7 linked regions of the Homo sapiens genome follow. The protein of the gene in region 7 purifies or fractionates together with the protein of the main gene of each other region. This does not show direct contact. Each region holds a gene or a part of one and is shown on either strand. Other genes may lie near its edges.

What was found.
Region 1: the proteins of GOLGA7 (region 7) and RAB5A purify together in Homo sapiens (affinity purification with mass spectrometry; one large-scale study listed by BioGRID and IntAct). This does not show direct contact.
Region 2: the proteins of GOLGA7 (region 7) and ZDHHC18 purify together in Homo sapiens (co-purification; one study listed by BioGRID). This does not show direct contact.
Region 3: the proteins of GOLGA7 (region 7) and UTP18 purify together in Homo sapiens (affinity purification with mass spectrometry; one large-scale study listed by BioGRID and IntAct). This does not show direct contact.
Region 4: the proteins of GOLGA7 (region 7) and MACROH2A1 purify together in Homo sapiens (affinity purification with mass spectrometry; one large-scale study listed by BioGRID and IntAct). This does not show direct contact.
Region 5: the proteins of GOLGA7 (region 7) and BDH2 purify together in Homo sapiens (affinity purification with mass spectrometry; one large-scale study listed by BioGRID and IntAct). This does not show direct contact.
Region 6: the proteins of GOLGA7 (region 7) and NAA50 purify together in Homo sapiens (affinity purification with mass spectrometry; one large-scale study listed by BioGRID and IntAct). This does not show direct contact.

Annotation. Positions count from the first base shown.
Region 1 is NC_000003.12:19,971,097-19,974,596, reverse strand, and holds part of RAB5A (ras-related protein Rab-5A), read right to left. Parts: intron 1-3,500. UniProt on the Homo sapiens protein: The small GTPases Rab are key regulators of intracellular membrane trafficking, from the formation of transport vesicles to their fusion with membranes.
Region 2 is NC_000001.11:26,854,188-26,857,687, reverse strand, and holds the end of ZDHHC18 (palmitoyltransferase ZDHHC18), read right to left. Parts: 3' UTR 84-3,500; downstream 1-83. UniProt on the Homo sapiens protein: Palmitoyltransferase that catalyzes the addition of palmitate onto various protein substrates, such as CGAS, HRAS and LCK. Acts as a negative regulator of the cGAS-STING pathway be mediating palmitoylation and inactivation of CGAS.
Region 3 is NC_000017.11:51,294,990-51,298,433, reverse strand, and holds the end of UTP18 (U3 small nucleolar RNA-associated protein 18 homolog), read right to left. Parts: intron 1,470-3,444; coding exon 1,445-1,469; 3' UTR 1,431-1,444; intron 653-1,430; 3' UTR 501-652; downstream 1-500. UniProt on the Homo sapiens protein: Part of the small subunit (SSU) processome, first precursor of the small eukaryotic ribosomal subunit.
Region 4 is NC_000005.10:135,371,732-135,375,231, forward strand, and holds part of MACROH2A1 (core histone macro-H2A.1), read right to left. Parts: intron 1-3,500. UniProt on the Homo sapiens protein: Variant histone H2A which replaces conventional H2A in a subset of nucleosomes where it represses transcription. Nucleosomes wrap and compact DNA into chromatin, limiting DNA accessibility to the cellular machineries which require DNA as a template.
Region 5 is NC_000004.12:103,079,964-103,082,834, forward strand, and holds part of BDH2 (dehydrogenase/reductase SDR family member 6), read right to left. Parts: intron 2,211-2,871; coding exon 2,118-2,210; intron 1-2,117. UniProt on the Homo sapiens protein: NAD(H)-dependent dehydrogenase/reductase with a preference for cyclic substrates. Catalyzes stereoselective conversion of 4-oxo-L-proline to cis-4-hydroxy-L-proline, likely a detoxification mechanism for ketoprolines.
Region 6 is NC_000003.12:113,725,750-113,729,249, reverse strand, and holds part of NAA50 (N-alpha-acetyltransferase 50), read left to right. Parts: intron 1-3,500. UniProt on the Homo sapiens protein: N-alpha-acetyltransferase that acetylates the N-terminus of proteins that retain their initiating methionine. Has a broad substrate specificity: able to acetylate the initiator methionine of most peptides, except for those with a proline in second position.
Region 7 is NC_000008.11:41,500,582-41,504,081, reverse strand, and holds part of GOLGA7 (golgin subfamily A member 7), read right to left. Parts: intron 1-3,500. UniProt on the Homo sapiens protein: May be involved in protein transport from Golgi to cell surface. The ZDHHC9-GOLGA7 complex is a palmitoyltransferase specific for HRAS and NRAS.

The sequences.
Region 1 (3,500 bases), on a different chromosome or scaffold from region 7:
GTGGTAGTCATTATTACCTTAACCTAGATTTAATTTGTTCAGTTGATTCAATATTTGCTCCTACCTTTCATTCCCTGCCATAAGAATTTTTTGGATCTGTACTTTCCCTGATTCTAATTTTAACACTAGGAAAGTAGCATTATAGGCCAGGCGTGGTGGCTCATGCCTGTAATCCCAGCACTCTGGGAGGCTGAGGAAGGCAAATCACGAGGTCAGGAGATCAAGACCATCCTGGCCAACATGGTGAAACCCTGTCTCTACTAAAAATACAAAAATTAGCTCGACATGGTGGCGCTTGCCTGTGGTTCCGGTTACTCGGGAGGCTGAGGCAGGAGAGTCGTTTGAACCCATGAGGCAGAGGTTGCAGTGAGCTGAGATCGCACCACTGCACTCCATCCTGGCAACAGAGACTCTGTCTCAAAAAAAAAAAAAAAGTAGCATTATAAAATGATACAATATTGTTAAAATTAAAAGACCTACACACAGCCATTAGACCGCCCTCTGCTGCTGCTCTATCATTCACTGTAAATTGGTATGCTCCTCCCTTCCTTCTACATTTAGCTCAAGGTGTGATATTCAAGCCCTATTTCCAAATTGGTATGCACTTGAATTACCATTTTCTAAAACTGTCATATTATGCAAAAGAATTATGATATATTTCTCTAAATTACAGCCGTTTATCTAGTGACGTTGATAGAGATGTACTAACCAGTATCAAATGTGCTAAAGAAACAAAGTCTAATGAGATATATCTCTTTTACGTTAGACACAACATTTATTTTTCACGCTCTTTTAGGTTAACTGGTTGCTGGCTTTAGTATCAACAACTAAAATCTTCTGAATTTTGCAAACAATACTGTAAACATCTTCATTTGGACCTAGATTCTAATTAATAGTTTTATGAATTCTCATTAATCACATTGTAAATATATTCTAATCCAGTTCAAACTTTTTTTTAACCAACAATTAGCAGAATTGTCCATTTTCTAAAATATTGTATTTATGGTAAAGGATATCCAGACAGCACTATGTCACTTTTTGAAGGTCACGAGAGGTTCTCCTGTAGGATCAAAAAATGTTTTTAAACTAAAATTTTAAACTAAAATTAAGTCCCTAAGACAGTACTCTTACCAAAAAGGAAAAGAGGAAAATAAGTCACAATACATAAGCCTTTTTTCAAGTATAGTTTGATGCAGACTTGCAAAAAAAAAAAAAGGAATTAAAATGTGCACAGACTGTTTCATTTTTCAGACATACTATGATCACAAAGTCTACTAGTACTAAAAACATTCACTTATACGTCCATAAGTAAACTTCAGGCTCAGGGAAATAACTATAGTCATCCCTCAGTATCTGTGGAGGACTGTTTCCAGGACCTCCCCATATATCATGAAGGACTGGTTCTAGAATCCCCAATGGATAACAAAATCTGAGGATGCTCAAGTCCCCGATATAAAATTGCAAAGTATGTGTATATAACCTAAGCACATCCTCCTGTATACTTTAAAGCATCTCTAGATTACTTATAATATCTAATACAATGCCTGCACCTCACGTCATCCACATAGATTCAACATAGTATTAAGTGTGTGGCAAATTTAATTTTTGCTTTTTGGAGCTAAGTTAATTTTTTCCCCCTTAATATTTTCAACTTGCAGTTGGTTGCATTTATAAATGTGGAACTCACAGATTCAGAGGGCCAACTGTATTAGAGATGTTGCCTTAAAGAAAATATGATCCAATTCTCAAGCCAGTTAAAGACACAAGAGGCCACCATACATGTACACCATACATGTACAAAAATGCCAAATACAAAGAAATTGCAACAAATACATTAAGACAAACAAATGCCCATTACCAAGTACATTCTTTCAGAAATACAAAACTATTACATTAACAGGCTAATGAAGAAAAATCCATTTTATTTAAACAAATTACAAAAAGGCATTTGAGTCAATATCCATTCCTAATAAACACACGAGATTCTTCCTTATGGCAAAACAGGGCATCATTCCTAAATCTAGGAACAAAACCAAGGGAAATCATGCTGAACAGGAATGGATCCCATTCAGATTAACAAAGAAGATAATCAATTCATTCCTCAACTCTGCTTAGAAACCTTCCTTCATTCCACCCTAGTTAATATCTCCTACATCTGTGCTCCCAGAGTTCTCTGTGTAATAACGTTTCACACCTTTTATAATCATTGGTTTATATCTTTTTCTTCTCCTTGATTGGGAGTTACTTGAGCAATGACCACAGGTTAAGTATCCCTTATCTGAAATGCTTGGAACCAGGAATGTTTTGGATTTTTAAAGATTTTGTAATATTTGCATAATGAGATATTTTTGGGAAGGGATCCAAGTCAAAACATGAAATTCGTTTGTTTCACATAAAGCTTGTACACATAGCCTGAAGCTAAAATAATTTTGTGCATTAAACCAAGTTTATGTACACTGACTCATCAGAAAGCAAAGGTGTTAAGTGTGGAAATTGTTCACTTGTGACATCATATTGATGCTCGAAGAATTTGGGAGCATTTCAGACTTCAGATTAGGGATGCTCAACTTGTAGTAGCTCCTCTCTGTACCAACATTTAATATAAATCCTTGTTCATACAGATGTTCAAAAATGTCTACTAAAAGAAGGAAGTTCAAAAAGATACATGGAACCATTTAGAGGCTACTTCAGATAACATTTGAATGTAGAGAGAGGCAGCTCCCAAATGTGAAAAAATAGATATTTCACAAGGTATCTACTCAAGTTGTAACACAACCTCAAAAACAACATCAAGATATTTTTCACCTGATAACACTGTACTGGGCCAGGTGCGGTGGCTTCCACCTGTAATCCCAGCACTTTGGGAGGCCGAGGCAGGTGGATCACCTGAGGTCAGGAGTTTGAGACCAGCCTGACCGGTATGGCGAAACCTCGTCTCTACTAAAAATACAAAAACAATTAGCCAGGCATGGTGGTGCATGCCTGTAACCCCAGCTACTCGGAAGGCTGAGGCAGGAGAATCACTTGAACTCGGGAGGCAGAGGTTGCAGTGAGCTGAGATTGTGCCATTGCTCTCCAGCCTGGGCAACAAGAGTGTAACTCTGTCTCAAAACAACAACCACCACCACCACCACCACCACCGTACTACTGTTCATGTGGTATGATAAAGCATAATTTTGGGGGAGAAAAGACCAACATTAGAGGCCAGGGAAAATCAGTTTTATAATATACTTTAAAAAATGAAAAGTGCTACAGTACTAAATGAACAGAAATATTACTGGAATAGTGTAGCCCACTATAATAAACTCTTGATATACATAATACACCCTAAGACGTTCATGATTTCTCAAAGTCCTAAAGTTTTAAAATACTACTATAGTGTTTTTTTTTTTTTTTTTTGAGATGGAGTTTAGCTCTTGTTGCCCAGGCTGGAGTGCAATGGCGCGATCTCGGCTCACTGAAACCTCCGCTTCCTGGGTTCGAGTGATTCTCCTGCCTCA
Region 2 (3,500 bases), on a different chromosome or scaffold from region 7:
AGCGAGGGGGAGCCATATGTTCCACACGCCCACTGCAGGTCCCATCCCTGGGCCCCAAAGTAAAGGCGCCACCAGACAGCCAATGGTATGGCAAGAAGAGGGGAATCTTTATTTTGGTTAAAAAAAAAAAAGGTACAGGATAGCAGACAAGCAGCCCCCAGCCCTGGGCTCAGCTGATTTTCCTTGGCTCAGCTCTTTCCTTTAGTCCCCTGAAGTGTATGGGGCTGTGCACGGCTAGCTTGGTCCCTCAGTGCCTAGAGCAAAGGAGGCACGCACCCTCCCTACATCCTACCTACTCTGGTGGAGGGTTGGGGGTGGGAGGTGGACAGGCCGTGGGAACAGTATCAAGCCAGTTGTGCTTAGAACAGTCACCAAACTTGTTCAGCAGCGTCATCCACCATCAACACCCCAGACAGCTCCTGAGGAAACCTGCTGGGCTTGACTATGGCTATGCCTGATCTGAGGGGGTGGAGGGGCAGGCTCTAAGGCCAGATTCCTAGTCTTGACACCTCACAAATCCGGGAAGGGGAAGTCAGTGGAGGAGAGAGGGAGCATATCAGCGTAGAGTCACATTATTGTGCTGATGGCTGCGTTATGGCTTTCTACACTCTGGCCGGCATGGAGCGGGAATGGGGCAAAGAGGCCAGCCCCTGCCCCCTATGGGGGTCCTAGAGAGCACACAGGCCGGGCAGGCTGGGGGGCAGACCCTGTAGGCACAGATGGTGGCAGATGGGCCACAGGTTAGGCAGGTGGAGGTGCCGGGTGCCTGGCTCCCCCCAGGCCATTCCTGGAGAGGCAGAGAGCAGCGGTCCTCAGGAGGTCCTTAAGCCCCCGCACACACTGGAGATCCCCGGCAGGACAGCAAAGAAGGAGAAGAGAGAGGGTTAGCAGGCCTGGGAGGAGGGAGGCGGCCTGCAGGGGCCCCGGTGGTGGGGAGAGGTGCTGCCACAGCACCTGCCTCTGCCCGAGAGAAGGGCCAAGGCTTAGGCAGCAGGCAATGAAGCAGGAGAGAAAACGGGCGGGTGAGAGAAAGCTCAGCGGGGACAGAAAGCCAGGACATAAGAGTGTTAGTGACCGGTGGCCCCTGCATACCAGGACCCCACCAGCACAGACCCAAGCACCTCAGGGCAGGTTCGCCATCCTCTCCCCAGCCTCACCCTCCACCTCCTCTTCCAGCTGGAGAGCTGCTCTGCGAGAAGCTACTTCCTCAGTCCACAATGGGGCTGGGCTTTTAGCCTTGCCCTATATCCCGATCCTTCTGCTTAGCGGGGAGTCCCTGGAGACCCTACCACCACCAGCACACACACCGCACCACACACCAGACAGATGGACGGGCTCCATGGGGTTGGCGAGGCATGCGATGAGGATGAGATGGTGTGTGAGGGGAGCGGGCAGTGCTGGCCGACAGGGAAGAAACGGTCTTACCAGCTAACCCTCTGCAAAGAGGCCTGTTAGCTCCCCTCAGGCTGTGCAGGAGATGGCAAAATCCTGACAGGTGTCCTCCTGAGGGAGATACCAGAGAGGTGGGCCAGTGTTATGAGTTGTCTGGCTGGGCCCTGGTGCCCAGGTTGGAGGTGGTAGCCAGGGAAGCTCCGGCTCTCAAACTGGAATCTACTGTCTCAAACATTTTCTTAGCTGGGCACTCATTGGGGATCGGAGTGGAAAGGCAGTAGGGAAGAAGAATTTGGGGGTCTCCAAGCCCCTGAGGCAGGGGAAGGTGGAGGGGACAAAGAGGGGACAGGATGGCCTCTTTTCACGTGCCCATGGGGGCTCAGCCGCAGCCCTCTCTGCTCTTCCTCCAGCGGACAGAGCTCCAGCCAGGTGAGGGAAAATGTAGCCAGATCACTGGGCTGCCTGCCTTCTCACAGTCTCCCCAGGAAAGAACCAAATTTGTCTGAAAGAACAGAGGGCTCCCAGTTGGGGCCTCAGCAAAGGAAAAGCAAACAAAAACCAAACCAAAGCAAAGCAACTCTTATAAACTGAAGTTTTATTACAAGCAGGAACAAAGAATACTGGCTTAAATAAAAGGTAGGTGGGAGCCCCCTCCTCTAGCCAGCTTCTTCCTCACCTCCCAGGGCCACTGCAGTGATGGCCCAGGGCCCTGAGGCTGGGGTGAAGCTGTTTCTCCCAGAGGGGACCCTCTGTGGCTGCCATTCCCAGCTGTCTGTGACCACTAGCCTCTGGAGTGAGAAGGGCAAGATCTGGGGACTTCCTATGTCACTTTCCAAGGGCTTCAGCCCACTTGAAGGGCCAAGGAGGGGGATGGTGGAACAATATCTATTTTGATAAGAAACTACAGCTCCCAGCAGAGGAGAAACATCCTCTGAGTTTCCGGCCCAGACTCAGGCCAACCTTCACTTGCCTCTTGGCCCACCCTGCACCTTCTTCCTTTTCTCTGGATGGAGGTCCCCGTTTGGCAGAAACACCTTGTCTTCCAGCTCCTGGCACTGGGTCCCATATTCAGAGCTCAGAGGAGGGGGTGTGGCTTGTAGGATGGCAGCCGCTCCCCAGAGCCATCACCCCACCCACCACGCCCAGGCTCAGCCTGTCTGGGCAGGTCCCAGCTGGAAGCCTCACCTGGGGGCTGGTGGGTAGGGCTGGGGGTAGAGTGGCAGAGTCCCCAGACACTGGCTGTCTGAAGTCCATAGAAGAAGGAAAGATAGGAGGCTGGGCTGAGCCCCAGTGGGAGCCCAGGGTTTTCTCGTGACCAGTGCACGTGCCCCCTGTCCCCTTGGCTCAGAGTGCTTCTGACACTCAAAGGGGATGGGGCAGGGGGCAGCCCAGGGGATATGGGAGCCAGCCACATTCATACAGGGCACACATGAACACACACACACATGCACACACACTCTCACTCATTCCAGCCAGAAGGTCTCTTGGAATAAACTTATTAAAACCAACCAGCCTTCTGATAACCCTTCACCTGGCACTACACAGACAGTAATGTGGCTGACATTTTCTCCTTCCATTTAAAAAAGACTATGTAGAAAAGAGGTCTATAAAATTGTGCAAAATACCCAGCATTAATAAACCCGTTTCAAGTATTGCCAGCATGAGCATAACCCACCCATGCCGGGACCTGGCTTGGGAGAGAAGTGGAGGGGCAGGCTGGGATCCCTTAAAGAGCTCTCCATGGGCAGGGGAAGGACCAGGCTCCCACTTCCACTGTGCTGCCCAGGAACTGCACAGGAGCTGAGGCTGTGGGTGCCTGGCTGGCTGATTTACCTTTGTCTGATACAGGCTGCCCCCACCCACCACCAACCCTGCCTTCTCTACTGGAGCCCCAACTCAATCCTATTGGCCAACTCCATAAAAAAGGGGGGAAAACCCCACCAAAAATCCCACAGAATAAAGGGAAATTATCACCAAGGGAATGAAGGAGCCCACAGACCAAAGCAGCCCATGGAGGCTTCCTCTCCACAGCCAGCTATCCAGAGCTGGCCACTCCTCAGTCCTGCTTCACCCTGAGGACCCTGGCTCAGCAAGGCCCAAGCAGTTCC
Region 3 (3,444 bases), on a different chromosome or scaffold from region 7:
GCCAGCTGCCAACCTTGAAATACAAATTAAACATTTAAGTTGGCATAATGAACATTTCCAGGAAGGGCAGTGGCTAATAATCTGTAGGACAAGGCTACCAGGTTTACTATGGCTCCTCTTCAAATGACAATGACAAAGATTTGAAGTAATAAGGCCAGAAAAGCCTTTTCATTTCCAAAATCATCTTTCCTGGAAGACTTGGAAGTTCAAACTTCACTACGTGAGATTTCACTGCTCTCATATCAAGCCGACTGACCTCCATAGCTCAAGAGACTACCTGTTAGCTGATCCCCTAAAGCATGGAGGATCGATTCAGGAAGGGGGATCTATTCAGGAAGAGATCTATGCATCAGGGTTAGCTGTATGAGAAGTATGAGAAAATCTGCTTATATTATTTTTGGCTACAGACAGGTGTTTCCAATTTCTCATGTTTAGTCTTAAATGCATCCAAGTTTGTGTGTGTGTGTGTTGGGGGTGGAGGGAAGAACCAGATACACTTATTTTCAAACAAAAGCTGCCACATGTTTATTAAGACATTACTGGCTCTTAAGCACAGCTGGATCTATAAATCATTTTCCATATATTATCACATATTCAGGAAAGTTTCTGAGATGATATATCAAGACAGGCTTCTCTTGTGACTCAACTGGACCTGAGGAAAGAACAAAAGAAATTACATACCTGATTTATAGCTGCTGGTCATCAACAGACACGTACTGGCAATGTAATCTTTTGAGACAGGAGAGCTAAACTGCTTTCCCCTCCTTGCTAAAGCTTTGCCCAAAATGCCTGTACCTTTAAAAATCCTTTGTCCTAATTAAATCTATCTGCATTCTCAAAGTCCCTCAACATTCATTAATCTCTGAGGAGACCAAACAGTCAACTGTGATGAAGAGGCCAATTGCAAAGCTCAATCTCAGAACCACCACATCTCAGGCCTGAAAGGACACCATGAGAAGGGAAGGATGTTCTATGGTTTTAAATATTGGGCAGCAGAACTAATGGCCAGCCCCATTATCTAGCTCTGTGAAACAGAGCAAGCTGCTAATCTCTCAAGAAACATATATATAATAAGAGGATTCAAGCTCATACAAGCTATAGCTATATCTGAAGACCCATCTCTCTGTGTTATTAAGTCTTTTGTGGATTAAACATGTTCAGTAATTACAATTTTGATGAGAATTATTGAATGCAACATTAGAGATCAGACCTCAGAAGAACCGAGCCAGATTGCTGTGATTTGGGATAAGAAAGGAGGGTCCAACTTCAGCTAGACAGTTCCTGATCTACTTCCAACCCACCCCTCTAAATAAAGATGCAGTAACTTAGGGGTAGAGAAACAAAGCTCAGCTAATGTGCTGCTTCCACCAACTGACAGCAATGGGTGTATCTTAAAACCTGCAGAATTTGTAAGAAAAGGGTTTTCTTACTTCAAATAGTCTCTTTAGAAGTCTGAGTAATGGTGCAACCTGGAAAAGTAAAAAATAAGTCATCTGAACAACTTTGTAATTACCCACAGTGTTTTCAATTAGATCACAGAAGGGCACTTAGGAAGATTTTAGTGGGAAAAATATGTAATCACAATCATTCACACCAGGCAGTTAGGTTCAGACTCCTCAATCTGACATTCTGGAGGATCTGAACGCCTCAGATTTTAGGTAACATGAGTAGGCTTACTCCAAAGTTTCACATGGGGGGTCTATGAAATACCTGATCAGACATAAACAATAAAAATGTCATCAGTCAATTCCAGTCACTGGTATAGCTAGAAACAGTGTCATTCTAAAGAGCAATGCTCTGGTGGAAAATCTAATGGCCTTTGGGTCTTAGAGAAAAAAAAATTTCACTTATAAAAATACCAAAGGATTTGGAAGAAAATTCTAAGTGCAATAAGAATCTGCATCCTTTTATAAAATACAAACTGAAACAGAACCACTCCAAATCTGATCTGAAATGAGACTGATGAAATTATCCTGGTATAACCTGTTTTCCTTTCAAAGTAAGTAGAACTGTAAACCACATTATTGTCTGGTATATTCTCCTTTCACAACTATTTCCTCAAAACCAATTTACATTCCTCCTTTTCTTCACTCCAGATTTTAGTCCGTTTTGAAAGCAGGAATTCCCTAAAGCATACAAACATAAACACAGGGTTCTATGTAGCATTCACTACCAACACAAGGAGCAAGGCAAGAGGGCTGTGATTTACATCACAAGTTTTCTACTGAAAGCTCTTTAGTTCTCCCTAAAGATCCACCTTGTCACCTATATCTTCTAGCAATGATGCAATTAGGTTTTGTTTGTTCCTGTTTTATAGCCAAGTATGTTGGGTACAGAAAAGAACCTGGACAGCGCATATAAGTTTTGGTTATCTTTGTGGTTAACACCCTTATTTACAGCTTACAGCTACAGGGAAAGAAACACCTTTTAAAAAGAAATCAATTAAATCTAGTGGAGTAAACTGAATTATTAAATCAGCAAAAGCTAATCTAAACATAAGGCACGAAGAAAGTGGAAATATTATTAAAGTGGCTTTTTCTCAATTTGACATTCTCAAAATAGTGCTTTCCAAAAAATATATATATTCCCCAGGTGAAGTTTCCTGCTAGTGACATTTTATGGTAGAAAATTACCCAAAGTACTGCCCAAGGTTATTTATAGATTCAATGCCATCCCCATCAAGCTACCAATGACTTTCTTCACAGAATTGGAAAAAACTACTTTAAAGTTCATATGGAACCAAAAAAGAGCCCGCATAGCCAAGTCAATCCTAAGCCAAAAGAACAAAGCTGGAGGCATCATGCTACCTGACTTCAAACTATACTACAAGGCTACAGTAACCAAAACAGCAGGGTACTGGTACCAAAACAGAGATATAGACCAATGGAACAGAACAGAGGCCTCAGAAATAATGCTGCATATCTACAACCATCTGATCTTTGACAAACCTGACAAAAACAAAAAATGGGGAAAGGATTGCCTATTTAATAAATGGTGCTGGGAAAACTGGCTAGCCATATGTAGAAAGCTGAAACTGGGTCCCTTCCTTACACCTTATACAAAAATTAATTCAAGATGGATTAAAGACTTACATGTTAGACCTAAAACCATAAAAACCCTAGAAGAAAACCTAGGCAATACCATTCAGGACATAGGCATGGGCAAGGACTTCATGTCTAAAACACCAAAAGCAATGGCAACAAAAGCCAAAATTGACAAATGGGATCTAATTAAACTAAAGAGTTTCTGCACAGCAAAAGAAACTACCATCAGAGTAAACAGGCAACCTACAAAATGGGAGAAAATTGTCGCAACCTACTCATCTGACAAAGGGCTAATATCCACAATCTACAATGAACTCAAACAAATTTACAAGAAAAAAACAACCCCATCAAAAAGTGGGCGAAGGATATGAACAGACACTTCTCAAAAGAAGACATTTAT
Region 4 (3,500 bases), on a different chromosome or scaffold from region 7:
ATGTCATTCTAGGCTACCCTTCTGGGCCCAACTCAAATCTGACCTCCTCCCAGTACTAAAGAATTTCTAATATTTAGTTATGTTGTAAACACTAGATTTCTCCAGCAACACCAGCACTCAGAATCATTATGAAATAACTAGGAAGAAAATTCTAGCTGCATAAAAATCGTGTGTTAAAAATTTACGGTATGACACAGGGCATGCATTTTTAAGAGGTACTAACAGCTCCACCCAATGCAAATAACCTGCTGTATGTGTGTAAAGCTGAAAAATTGCTTGGCTACTCAAGGAAACTCTCATATTAGCTTTGGGGGCAGGGGCGGGAGGAGATCAGACACACTTGAAATAGCAGGTTTCCCCCTAAATCCAAGGCAGGAATTCCTTTGCTCAGTAATCACCATACTGATGACACACAACTCTGTGCTTGGCAGGAGGGACCCAAGGCACCAGGAGGCCCCTGTCTTCTCAGTGTTCCCAGGCCTGCAGGGCTACACATGCCAGTGATACAGAGAGTGATAAAGAATGCCACAGGGTCCCTTACCTGGGCTTTATACATGTGAGAGCCACAAAACTAAGGCAGGGTGGAAGGCAAGATAGCCAGTGCTTACATGGAATCTGGTGGAGGGGCTCACATTTCCCACTTTCACCCATCAGTCTCCACAACGCTATTCCCTTCCCTGTACCAGTGTCAGCACAGTTTAGTTTACCAGTGGAGGAGGGAGATGGCCACCCAGCATTTTCACTGAAGCTTCCCTATCATTGATCGTGGTAGTGTCCCAATGCCCAGCAGTGATGGGCCCACCTTGGCCAAGCCAAAAAGGTGCCTGTGATGCCTATGTGACCTTGGGCCCTGGGTACTGTGAATGCAGAAGCGCCTGCCTGGCCAGCCCAGCTTGGCCTTCATTCTCCTGTGTTCATGGGCGGGAGAGCACATCCGTAATGCCACTGTCCTGCCCACGGCCCAAGAGGATGCCAAACCAAGAGTCTAAGCCCAACAAGAACACAGAGCCTGGGAGCAATGGAACATGAAGGAGAGTCAGCCACGATGGGTGCTGGGCAGAATCCTCACGGCAGGAAGGCCTGAGAGGCATATCAAGCACCACTGAGCTGTAGCCCACTTTGCTGGCTTCCCCTCCCTTCCACAACCTTCCCCTTTTGGAGGCCACAACGAAGTTTTGGGCCATCGGTATCTGCAGAGCCAGAATATACAGGAGGAGGCTGATGGATTACAATCTTCTGACCATAATGTGCCAAGAATGCTTTATCTGCCCCCTCATTAACAGAGAGGAAGGGAGGCAGAAGGAGAATGCCCACAGTGGTGACCTGTTTTGCTAAGTCCTAAGCCCAACCCTTTGGCAAGAAAATCGTTTGAAGGTACAGTTTCTCAGGAAAGTGGAGGTGGCCTGTTTCCTCTTCCTGCCCAAAACGTTGGAGGAAGGCCCTCCCTGAGAGAAGGCTCAGTGGCCGTTGGTGGTCGGGGAGGAGGGGAGGGATGTGGTCTATATTTTCTGCAGTGCTGCCTTCACTTTTTTTTTGTGCAGGAAAAATGAGAATGATGGATAAAAAGACCTGAAGAGTGTGGTTGGGCCCCTGACTTGGGTGAGGGCAGGTAGTATGTAAAGAACAGAAAGCAACAGAGTAGCCCAGAAGTAAGCACATCGGGTTGAGAAACCTGAAAATGGATTCTCCAGGAGCTAGAGGACATTATCCCTGGCTTCGCAAGCTTTACCCCTTTATGCTCTTACTTTGTGACTGAAAAGTTCAGTAGCCTCAGTTTCTCCATTAGAGAAACTTGAAGGACCATGCTTATGTTTTGCTATTCAACTGGGAATCAGGGATGCCACACTGGACCAACCTGTAAGTGACAGTGAGTAGCAAGGTGGATAAGGAGGGGCAGAAGGAGGAGCATCTCAGCTCCTTAGAAAGAGCTGGGCAGGGATGTCATTCTGTTGCCTTCTTTACCAAGGAGCCCCAGAATCCAAGACTCTTCCTTTTTGCAAAACCCCAGCTCATCTTTTATCTGCACAAGCCAAAATTACTGCCTCTCCATACTCCTACCACCATAGGGTGGGCCCTCAGCCCTGTGGGTAGGGAGGAGGGAGCTGTGTCAAGTAGGGATAACAAAGAGGGGCACAGATCCACCTTCCAGCTAGTTAAGCAAGAGCTTTATCTTCTGTTTACTCTTGCATTTTTTTCAGATGGATAGTTACCATAGTAACCCCATCGTTAAGGGACACACAAGACAGAGCACCTCAGAAACACACCTTTTATGAGAAGTATATTCAGTGTCCCACCCCTCTCCTGTGCTGCAGCAGCAGAGGGCCGGGGCATTTCACCATGGCCAGGGAAAATGGAGGGTGCCCGACTTAACAAAAGCAGTAACCCAGAATACACACTCATCCCCTGCCAACCATCAGTAATACTCACCCTCTCATCCTTAGTCCAGGTTTAGAAAAAGCCATCGTAAAGGGCTTTCCTGGCTAAGAAAGAGTTGCCTGCTGCAGAGACAGCAGAGGTGCAAAATGCCAGCAACTCAACAAGATGGAACGGTTCCCATCTGCTCTCCAGGGCATGTTCCTATTCAGGGGGGAGCGGAGAGGGTGACTGACTGCTGAGGAATTGGGACAGGGCACACGTCACCAAAGGAGATGTCCTGATGTAGTTTTCTTCCCTGTAAGTGATCCTCTGCTTTGCAATAATATGGAGGGCAAAGTCATGGAGGCCCCAGGCTCAGGGCTGTACAGCAATGCCTGCCTGCCCCCCATGCACACTGGGATGGCCCTCACATTCCCACCAGCAAGGAGGGCTTTCTCCTAGGCTAGAACAGAGCCAACTTAAGCCTCTGCCTCAAAGTGAATGGAGCCGATGCCTTCCTACAAGGGGGAGGGTGGGTTCTTGCACTCAATTCATTTCATGTTTTGGAAGGTTTTGTGAGTCTCTGTTTTGTCTGTGGCTGGTCTAAAAGAAAAGCGATTCTGAGAAAGATAACCAGGAAAACACCAGATCTATGGACACAAAAATCCTTTTCTCCAGAGTTTCCAGAGCTCAGCCCTTGGATTCTCTCTTGAAGGAAATTTTCAGGAGCCACAGCCTGGAGGCTGTAACCAAAATAAATGGAATCCATAAGAAACCACAGGAAGAAACGGAAAAGAACAATTAGGAGAAGAAACAGAACCCCTTACCAGGTTCTCCACCCCATCAAGCCAAGTATTCTCAGTCGGTGACAGTCTAAGTTTTGTTACCAATGACCAATACTAGACTGATTTGGGGCCCAAGGCGCTTAGGGTCTGCTCTGAAGAGGACTGTAAGTGTGGTAAAGTTCCCAATTATAAATGGTGCAAAGGGAACAAGTTGAATGGTGAGCAAACTGGCCAGCTCATTAACTCTTCTAAGATTTTTGTTTTTCAAAACACATAAGCCTCTGGTTCTCACTCCTGGCCAGGGCCAGTCTCTGGCAACTAGTGAGTGGCTGGCACCATCATCTGTAGTGGCCTAGATGA
Region 5 (2,871 bases), on a different chromosome or scaffold from region 7:
TGGCTGGTGTCTAAGCACCTGTCACTGTTAGGTATTTGGTCTCAGAATCCCCAAATTAAGGAACAGTGATGTATAGCCATTCCCCAAATTAGGATATAGGCTAAAAGCACATTTTCATTTTGAAACTCAGAACTATTCAAAACTAGCTAAGTTTTATGCCACTAATAAACTTTTGAACATAAGTGTATCAGTCATAAAATGGTCATATTAATGACCAGTTTTTTAAAAAAGACAGCATATATTTAGTTGATCAATTATAAGTGGATAATTGTAGGAGCTGAAGCACACTAAATGTGTTTTAAAAATTTACATGAATGATAATAACTATAATCCATTAAGCTATAAAAATATTCTATATTAGTTTCAGATATCCAAATCTTTATAAAACTAAGGAATTTAAAAAATAATTACTGGTTTATTCCCATAAATTTTTCATTTTCTAAATAAGGCTGAAGTGATCTTTTTGGTAGAAGTTTAAAAATCTTTTAACTTAAAATGGATAATAAAGACTCAAACAGTCTAAATTCATCTGAAGCCTGAAACAATGGAAGAGGAAGTAAGGATATCATAATGAATAGAGAAATTTTAAGAGTTCAATAGATAAAAGCTGATAATATACAGTAGGTGAACTAGGGAGTTATTAGTCACTTCACCAAAGAAATACCTCCAACTCCCCCAAGTTCTTTTAAAAGACAAGCTCTGTTACACATATGAACTCCTCTGGAAACCTCTAAAAAGCCAAAGGTACTTTTGTAGCACATTTCAAGCCACAACACTTCCAAATATCTTGTAACCTAAGCTCTGGCTAACTAAGGGTAATTTAGCTTATCAGCAGTACCCAAATCAAATGAGCTATTCTGAAGATACGGATTCAGAGAAATCACAAAGGCTCATGTGCTTCTTCATTAAACATTTGTCTATTAATTTCCCCAGCTATTAACAATTGTTGTTAATAGTTGGGAGAAGTTCTGAGAAGAAACTGCGCTGTCACGGAAACATTTCAATCCCTGTATTTGTCACATTCACCAACTATCTGGTGTGCACCAAGTTACTGGGAAGAGGAGCTATCAGTTGTTCCCTCCTCGCTCCCGCCTAGTCCCCTTTCCTTCCCTCTTCTCACACATTACAGTTCCTTGTTCCTGTAGTATTCAGAGACATAAAACAGAGGAGGACCTTCTTGTGCTCTATACCTTATAAGCATCATTTTTGCTTTCATCTTAAGCCATTTAAAAGTAAACAATAGTTATTAAGGAAAAAACTGTTAAACAGATGCAAAGTGGAAGAGATTAAATTAGGAATTTCCATACACGATGATGAACAAGTAAGAATTTTTAAAAATATTTATTTATTTTGAGACGGAGTCTCACTCTGTCACCCAGGCTGGAGTGCAGTGGCGCAATCCCGGCTCACTGCAACCTCCGCCTCCCTGGTTCAAGCGATTCTCCTGCCTCAGCCTCCCGAGTAGCTGGGACTACAGGCGCCCGCCACCACGCTCAGCTATTTTCTGTTTTTAGTAGAGACGAGGTTTCACCATGTTGGTCAGGCTGGTCTCAAACTCCTGAACTCAGGTGATCCGCCTGCCTCGACCTCCCAAAGTGCTGGGATTACAGGCATGAGCCACCATGCCCGGCCACAAGTAAGAATTAATAGAGAAAAAAGAGCCAGTGGAATTCTCCCAAACAAGTCACAAGTAAAACTAAAACACCACATGCGAATTCTGTGTCCACTGAACACAAATCTGCTTAATCCTCTCCCCATTTCACTTAGAGCTCTTATAATCCTGGAGGTTCAATTTTTTGACTTGCATTTAATCAGGGTTTCCCCAATTATAATTTTTGAAAGGAACTGTCTCTCAGAAAATTGAGCACTTTAACTTTTTTAGTCCTCCATTTTGTTTGCTACAAGATTTTATGTAAAGCTGAATAAGGAAGAATTAGTGGCTCAGATCGAAGTGGTCTTTCTTTGAGCAAATTAAATGAGAACTTATCCCTATCTTATAAATGTAGCATCTTAGCACATATATGCCACAAACTCTCTAAAATGATATTATTTTGATGAGCAAATTGTGGCCAAATGTGATTGAGGGTAATGAACTCCTTGGGAAGAATAGTGCTTACTTCATCAGAAGCCAAATACACGCAGAGCATGGCTATTTCTTCTGCAGTTGCGAATCTTCCCGTCTTTTGTCTCTTCAGGAAATCATTCCGTGCCTGTGACCAGAGACCATACCAGACATTAGTGATGGAAGCAGCTGTATGTGCTCACCTGCATCTTGTTCAAGGAGTTAAAGGCAAGAGAATCCACTGGCTTGCTGCCTTGATGAATAATCAACTAGGGTTATGGTGATTCTTTTGCCAAAGTTACTCAAATTGTTTGTGTTATACTAAAACCCACAGATATTGTGACACATCAGAAAGCTAATGTTAAAGGATGAGGGCATTATTTTTTCATCTTCAAAAGTTGTGGTAAAGTATACAGAATATAAAATTTACTATCTTAACCATTTTAAGTGTACAGTTCAATAGTGTTAGGTACATTCACACTGTTGTGCCACCATCACCACTGTCCATCTCCAGAACTCTTATTTTTATTATTATTATTTTTTCTTAGAGACAGAGTCTTGCTCTGTTGCCCAGGCTGGAGTGCAGTGTTGTGATCATAGCTCACTGTTGTACCTCAAACTCCTGGGCTCAAGCGATCCCCCAGCCTCAGCTTCCCAAGCAGAACTCTTTTCATCTTACAAAATGGAACCTCTCTACTCATTAAGCATTAACTACTCTTTTCCCTCCTTCCAAGCCCCTGGCAACTACCATTTCACTTTCTGTCTCTATGAATTTGTCTGCTATAGGTATGGAAGAGGGCATTTATTAA
Region 6 (3,500 bases), on a different chromosome or scaffold from region 7:
GGGAGGCCAGGGTGGGCGAGCCTATCACTTGAGGCCATAATTTCAAGACCAGCCTGGCCAACATGGTGAAACCCCATCTCTACTAAAAATACAAAAATTAGTTAGGAGTGGTGGCACATGCTTGTAATGACAGCTGTTTAGGAGGCTGAGGCAGGAGGATTGCTTGAACCCAGGATGCGGAGGTTGCAATAAGCTGAGATTGCACCGCTACACTCCAGCCTGAGCAACAGAGGGAGACTCCGTCTCAAAAAAAAAAAAAAAGAAAAGGAAAAAAGTGTATCAAGAGTAAGCCTTTTTGAGATACCATGTGAACAAAGACTTGGAGTTAACATATACTGCAGCCAAGGATGGAGAGGCCATCAATTGACAGGAAAAACTGCAAGCAAAGCAGATTTTGGAACAAAGATTTGAAATTGTTTGCAGTATGTTCACTTTGAAGTGTCTGCTGGAGATTGCTTGGATCTAGGAATGTAGAGTTCAGGAGTGAACTATAGGCTAGAGACAGAAATTTGGAAATTGGCAGCATTAAAGCCACACAACTACAAGATTGAATGAGATCACCAAGAGAATAATTATAGAGAAGATAACCAAATGCGTCCATATACGAGGCCGTCATAAAATTGGTTCTTTTTCAGCTTCCGCATTTATACACAAGCATACTTGATGTTTTAGCCATATCAAACTGACTGATTTTCGGACTACATCACTGCTGTTTTGTTCATGTTTTATTAGACTGCATCTCTTGCCCTTCCACAGGATAAGCTAGTCGTTCTTCAAAATGTTTCCCATTGTCACCTTCATTCTAGTATTATTTTTGTACTATATGTACATACACTGTTAGTAGCACATTGTATATACCTGTCTTTCCTACCAGATGTAAACACCTTTGCATTCCAGATGCATAACACATAGATACTCAAATATTTATTGAAATATAATTGATTTATGCTTTAGGCAACTCTATTATGTTCATAAGAACTTTAGAAAAATTTAGATTGACAGAATTTTTTAAATCTCCATTAGGTTAGTTTTTTAATAGAGAATTTGGACTTTTAACTTAATTTTTTATAGGTTATTCTAACTAAAACCTTTTTGGTTGTTTACATTCAAGTAATGTTATTTTCTTGACATGTCTACATATCCCTTATGCTTATGCCTTTTTTTTTTTTTAACTCCGTGTTCCTTGCTAACTTATATTTACAAGTTGATTATAGTACTTTGATATATTTAGAAAATCCATGTCTTAAAATAATTTGGAGCTAAGTGATCAGGATTACAGAAGTATTCCATTTCAGTCAGACATATCATGTTAATGAGAGTTAAACTATATTTGAAGCTCAGTTTTGCTGACAAGGTTACATTAAGTGAACATTTTGAAATTTTTCTAGCATATTTGTTTCTTGCAAAAATCAAATTAATTTCTCAAAAACAGCTTAATTTTTCCAACAGCTACCAAACAATACTTAAATCTCAAATTTGTTTAAAGCGTGTATATACATATATATAACGCGCATAGAAAAATATTGGAAGACTATCAGCAAACTTATTTCTGGCCATATTATTGCAGGATATTTTCCCTTTCTACGTCATTTCTATGGTGTGCTTTAAAAAAAAAAAAGGCATGTATTTTTTTAATTAGTTAGGGGAAGATTAAGCTGCCTATTTCCTAATGGTTCAATATTGTTTTCTCTATTTAGGCTTTATCTGGCCACCCTAATGGAAACTTTTTTTAGTAGTTAACTTTTATTAGACTCATTGTAGCACAGTGCACTATAACCACTTTTTCTTCTTGTATGAAGTCAAGAAATACCTGGTATTATTCTTTGAAAACTGTAAGTATGCTTGAAGCCTAGTTACTACCTACAAATGATTCCTAAAGTTTTAAAAACCTCAAGTTCTTTCATTTATACTTTAGAAGCTTGACTTTGTAGGTTCTTAAGTTACTATTATTGTTGATACTTCAACTTCATAATGTAATTTTAAATCACTTTTTAAATACTAAGACTTTTTTTTAAATGAGATGCTCTAAATTAATACAAACTGTATATAAAAAAATTACTACACCCAACTTGTGGCACTATGGTAAGTTAAACAGGAGACAGTGTAGGTAAGATGTGATCCCTGTCAGCTACTGCATTTTTAAAGGATCCTATATTTTGGCCAGGCACAGTGGCTCACGCCTGTAGGCCCAGCACTTTGGTAGGCCAAGGTGGGCGGATCACTTGAGCTCAGGAACTGTAGACCAGCCTGGGCAACATGGTGAAACCCTGTCTCTACAAAAAATTCAAAAATCAGCTGGGCGTGGTGGCATGTGCCTTCCTCAGCTACTCGTTAGGCTGAGGTGGGAAGATCACTTGAGCCTGAGAAGCGGAGGCTGCTGTGACCTGTAATTATGCCTGGGCAACAGAGCAACCCTGTCTCAAAAAAAGAAAAATAAAGGATTCTATAGTTTACAGGATAACAGTATCCACAGATTTTTCTTTCTTTCTTTCTTTTTTTTTTTTTTGAGGCGGAGTCTTGCTCTCTCGCCCAGGCTGGAGTACAGTGGTGCGATCTTGGCTCACTGCAACCTCTGCCTCCTGGGTTCCAGTGATTCTTCTGCCTCAGCCTCCCGGGTAGCTGTGACTACAGGCACGTGCCACCACACCGGGCTAATTTTTGTATTTTTAGTAGAGACAGAGTTTCACCATATTGGCCAGGCTGGTCTCAAACTCTTGACCTTATGATCTGCCCACCTTGGCCTCCCAATTTTTTTTTTTTTTTATGTGAATGGTAGATAGTGGGGAAAGTGAGCCCAGTAGATTTTAGTCAGAAAAGTGTTATGAAGAGGGGGAGTTCTGTGAATGAGATGTAATCTACTTAAAGAAAACATGAATTTCATACAGGGAATTCATTATAGTTGTCAAATACTTGGGATGAGAAAAGACTATACTTAAGTGACTAGAAGTTGGAAGAGACTATAACAAGAAAATGTCTATTTTTTTATTTTTACTTTTTTAAACTTCCTATGGTGCTGAGGGGTTTTTTAAATATATAAATCTCTTACCCTTTTACTAACATGTTTGTTTATTTAATCTGTGTGGTTGCTAAGAAACTATGTTCAGATTTTAGGAAGACATACAAGACATGAAAAGATCATTGGTTGCAACAAATAATACAGATTAGTGGTATAAAAAATAATCAAGGCAGGAAGGATAAAGTTCCAAATGAGCTAAGCCTTTCAAAACTGCTAAGTATGACAGAAACGATGCTTTATGCTGTCTTTTGTGTTCTTCATACAGACTACTTAAATAGGGGGTAAAAGTCTCTTGTTTTTGCCTCTAACTCCTTACCAAGTAGAATGTTCTCCAAACTGGGCATTATAGAGTAATACATCTTAGAGAACTTTGTACTATAAGATAAAATATTACATCATATTCCTCTCCAGATAAATCAAATTTAGAAATTTCTTTTTTTATCTGTAATTATTGCTGTTTTTTGTTTTGTTTTTGAGACAGTCT
Region 7 (3,500 bases):
AGGTTAGTTACATATGTATACATGTGCCATGCTGGTGCGCTGCACCCACTAATGTGTCATCTAGCATTAGGTATATCTCCCAATGCTATCCCTCCCCGCTCCCCCGACCCCACCACAGTCCCCAGAGTGTGATATTCCCCTTCCTGTGTCCATGTGATCTCATTGTTCAATTCCCACCTATGAGTGAGAATATGCCAAGTCAATCCTAAGCCAAAAGAACAAAGCTGGAGGCATCACACTACCTGACTTCAAACTATACTACAAGGCTACAGTAACCAAAACAGCATGGTACTGGTACCAAAACAGAGATATAGATCAATGGAACAGAACAGAGCCCTCAGAAATAATGCCGCATATCTACAACTATCTGATCTTTGACAAACCTGAGAAAAACAAGCAATGGGGAAAGGATTCCCTATTTAATAAATGGTGCTGGGAAAACTGGCTAGCCATATGTAGAAAGCTGAAACTGGATCCCTTCCTTACACCTTATACAAAAATCAATTCAAGATGGATTAAAGATTTAAACGTTAAACCTAAAACCATAAAAACCCTAGAAGAAAACCTAGGCATTACCATTCAGGACATAGGCGTGGGCAAGGACTTCATGTCCAAAACACCAAAAGCAATGGCAACAAAAGCCAAAATTGACAAATGGGATCTAATTAAACTAAAGAGCTTCTGCACAGCAAAAGAAACTACCATCAGAGTGAACAGGCAACCTACAACATGGGAGAAAATTTTCGCAACCTACTCATCTGACAAAGGGCTAATATCCAGAATCTACAATGAACTCAAACAAATTTACAAGAAAAAAACAAACAACCCCATCAAAAAGTGGGCGAAGGACATGAACAGACACTTTTTTTTTTTTTATAAACTTTAGTAACATTGATATGCACTTGGGTATCAGTTCAGAAAGAAAACAATTAGTTTTCCTTTTTGTATAAGCTCTAAATATTCTTATACTATTGTGGTGAAGGCAACACTGTCCTTAACAAGATGCTTTAAAACTTAGTCTCAAAATAAAAATAAAATAAAAATTAAAACAAACGATAAAACTCTTAAAGTCTCTTTAATAGCAGAAGAGCATTAATATGTGTAAACTCATACCACAATCTCAGAAAGGACAAAGCGCCATTCTCACCCCCAAGAAATCATATGTTGACATTTTATTCACACTTTATTATTTTTGGTAAATCAATGTCAAAGCAAACCATAATATTTAACAAAGTTATCTGCTACTTTCAAATCCTCAACAAAACTTCAATTTGTATAATATTTACAAAGTGAAACACAATCAAACCTTGGAAAAACTACTGTCCTCCCTGAGGATATTCAACTGGAGAAAGCCTTCCAGACCTTCAAGAAAAATGGCCTGATTGAGGCTAAGTAACACCACATCTTACTGTTTTCAGAACATACCCAAGTTCTCTCCTGTGTTCCTTCTAGAGATTACAGCACATAGGCAGAAGGGATGTTTTCTAGTTCATGAACAAGGCAGAGAGATACTGAAAGGGGAACCTTCCACGAGCCCATTTGTCCCCTAATTATCATGGGTAGCAACAATAGAGAAATAACACTGAAGTCTTTATCTTCATTTTAAATCAATAAATAGCACATTATAGGGAAAAATGCATGATTGTTCTAGTGAGTTTTAAAAGGCCTATTTACAATTTCAAAAAATTTAACACACATGACAAAGTATAAGCACTGTTATATTTGGCTTACTGTTTGTAGACTAGGAATTTCGGTGTTTAAAACAATAGAGACTAAATGACTCAACCTCATCCTTTTGTAAGTAGAAAATAATAGCACAAAAATTCCTCAGAGACAAACTGGGAAAGGGAGAGGGCAGCTGTGCTTACATTTTAATCATTTTATCAAAACACAAATGCACACTTCTATTAAAAGTATAGGTATATCATATCTTAACTATCATCATTCCAGTTATTAATTCTGCACAATCTAATTATCCATGTTCAGTTTCTACAAAATATCACCTATTTTTAAAATGTGGCCATGCCTTAAATTTGGTTTCTGGATTAATTTTATTTGGTCTTTATTTGCTTTGTAACATTTGCTCTATAAAAAGAAAGGGGCCTTGCTTAGACCTATAAAATAGGACCTTACACAATGTCTACAAATCCAAGCTAAAACATATACTGGGATCAACCAATTTCCATTGTATTTCTGGTATTTAGGACCATCTTCCAAGATTTAATAATTGGAAGGTTTTTAATTGAGAGCTGCTAAGTGTTTTCAGCACCCAAATAAACTAGCGGCTGGCTAAAAGATTACTTATACTTGAAAATAAAAAATCATATGTGAGTTCACAAATATCTGATTAAAACTTACATAGGTAACTTCATTTAAAATCTATCTTGGCTGGGCACAGTGGCTCATGCCTGTAGCCCTAGCACTTTGGGAGGCCGAGACGGGAGGATCGCTTGAGGCCAGGAGTGCAAGACCAGCCTAGCCAACATAGTGAGACCCCATCTCTAGTTTTTTTTAAAAAAGTAAGTAATAAAGGCTGAGTGCTGGGTGCAGTGACTCACACCTGTAATCCTAGAACTTTGGGAGGCCAATGCAGGTGGATTACTTGAGGCCAGGAGTTTGAGACCAGCCTGGTCAATATGGTGAAACTTCATCTCTACTGGCACAAGAATCACTTGAACCCAGGAGGTGGAGGTTGCAGTGAGCCGGGATCGCACCACTGCATTCCAGCCCGGGTGACAGAGCAAGACTCTGTCTCAATTAAAAAAAAAAAAAATCGACCTCAAGAAAACACTGTTTATTAAGCACTAACCACATGTAAGGAAAATTATTAATTCTAATATACATTTTATAGTTGAGAGAATTCAGAGAGATTAATTTGTCCAAGATCTCATAATTAGTATAAACTGACTAGCACCCAATTACCAATTTCTTTTTACAAATGACATCAGTACTTCTATTTCAGCAAATACACTTTGACAAATACAATTAAAATTTTATCAACAAATGTAATAACAACTCAAGCCTTTTAATACTTCACTAAGCATGAATAAAATACTCAAGAGATGTGCTTCTACCTTAAATTAGCAATATTATGGACTTCTGTAAATAGTCATTCCAGATGATAAAGTTTCTACCTATGTGAATTCAGCTTTACCCTCCCCTCCTACATTCATACCAACTATCAACATATCCCTTGGAGCTGGTCACCTCTTTGCACCTCCCCTGCTCCCTTCCTAATCCAGGCTATCTCACTCTTGCCTGGACTTCTGTGGAGCTTCCTGACTAGTTTCCCTACTTCTATTCTTATGCCTTTTTTCCACAAAGCAAAGAGATCTCTTTAAAATGAAAATCTTGCTGGGCGCAGCGGCTCAGGCCTTTAATCCCAATACTCTGAGAGGCTGAGGTGAGAGGATCGCTTGAGCCCAGGAGTTCGAGACCAGCGTGGACAACACAGTGAGACCCTGTCTCTATTACAAAAATAAATAAAATGAAAATCTCAT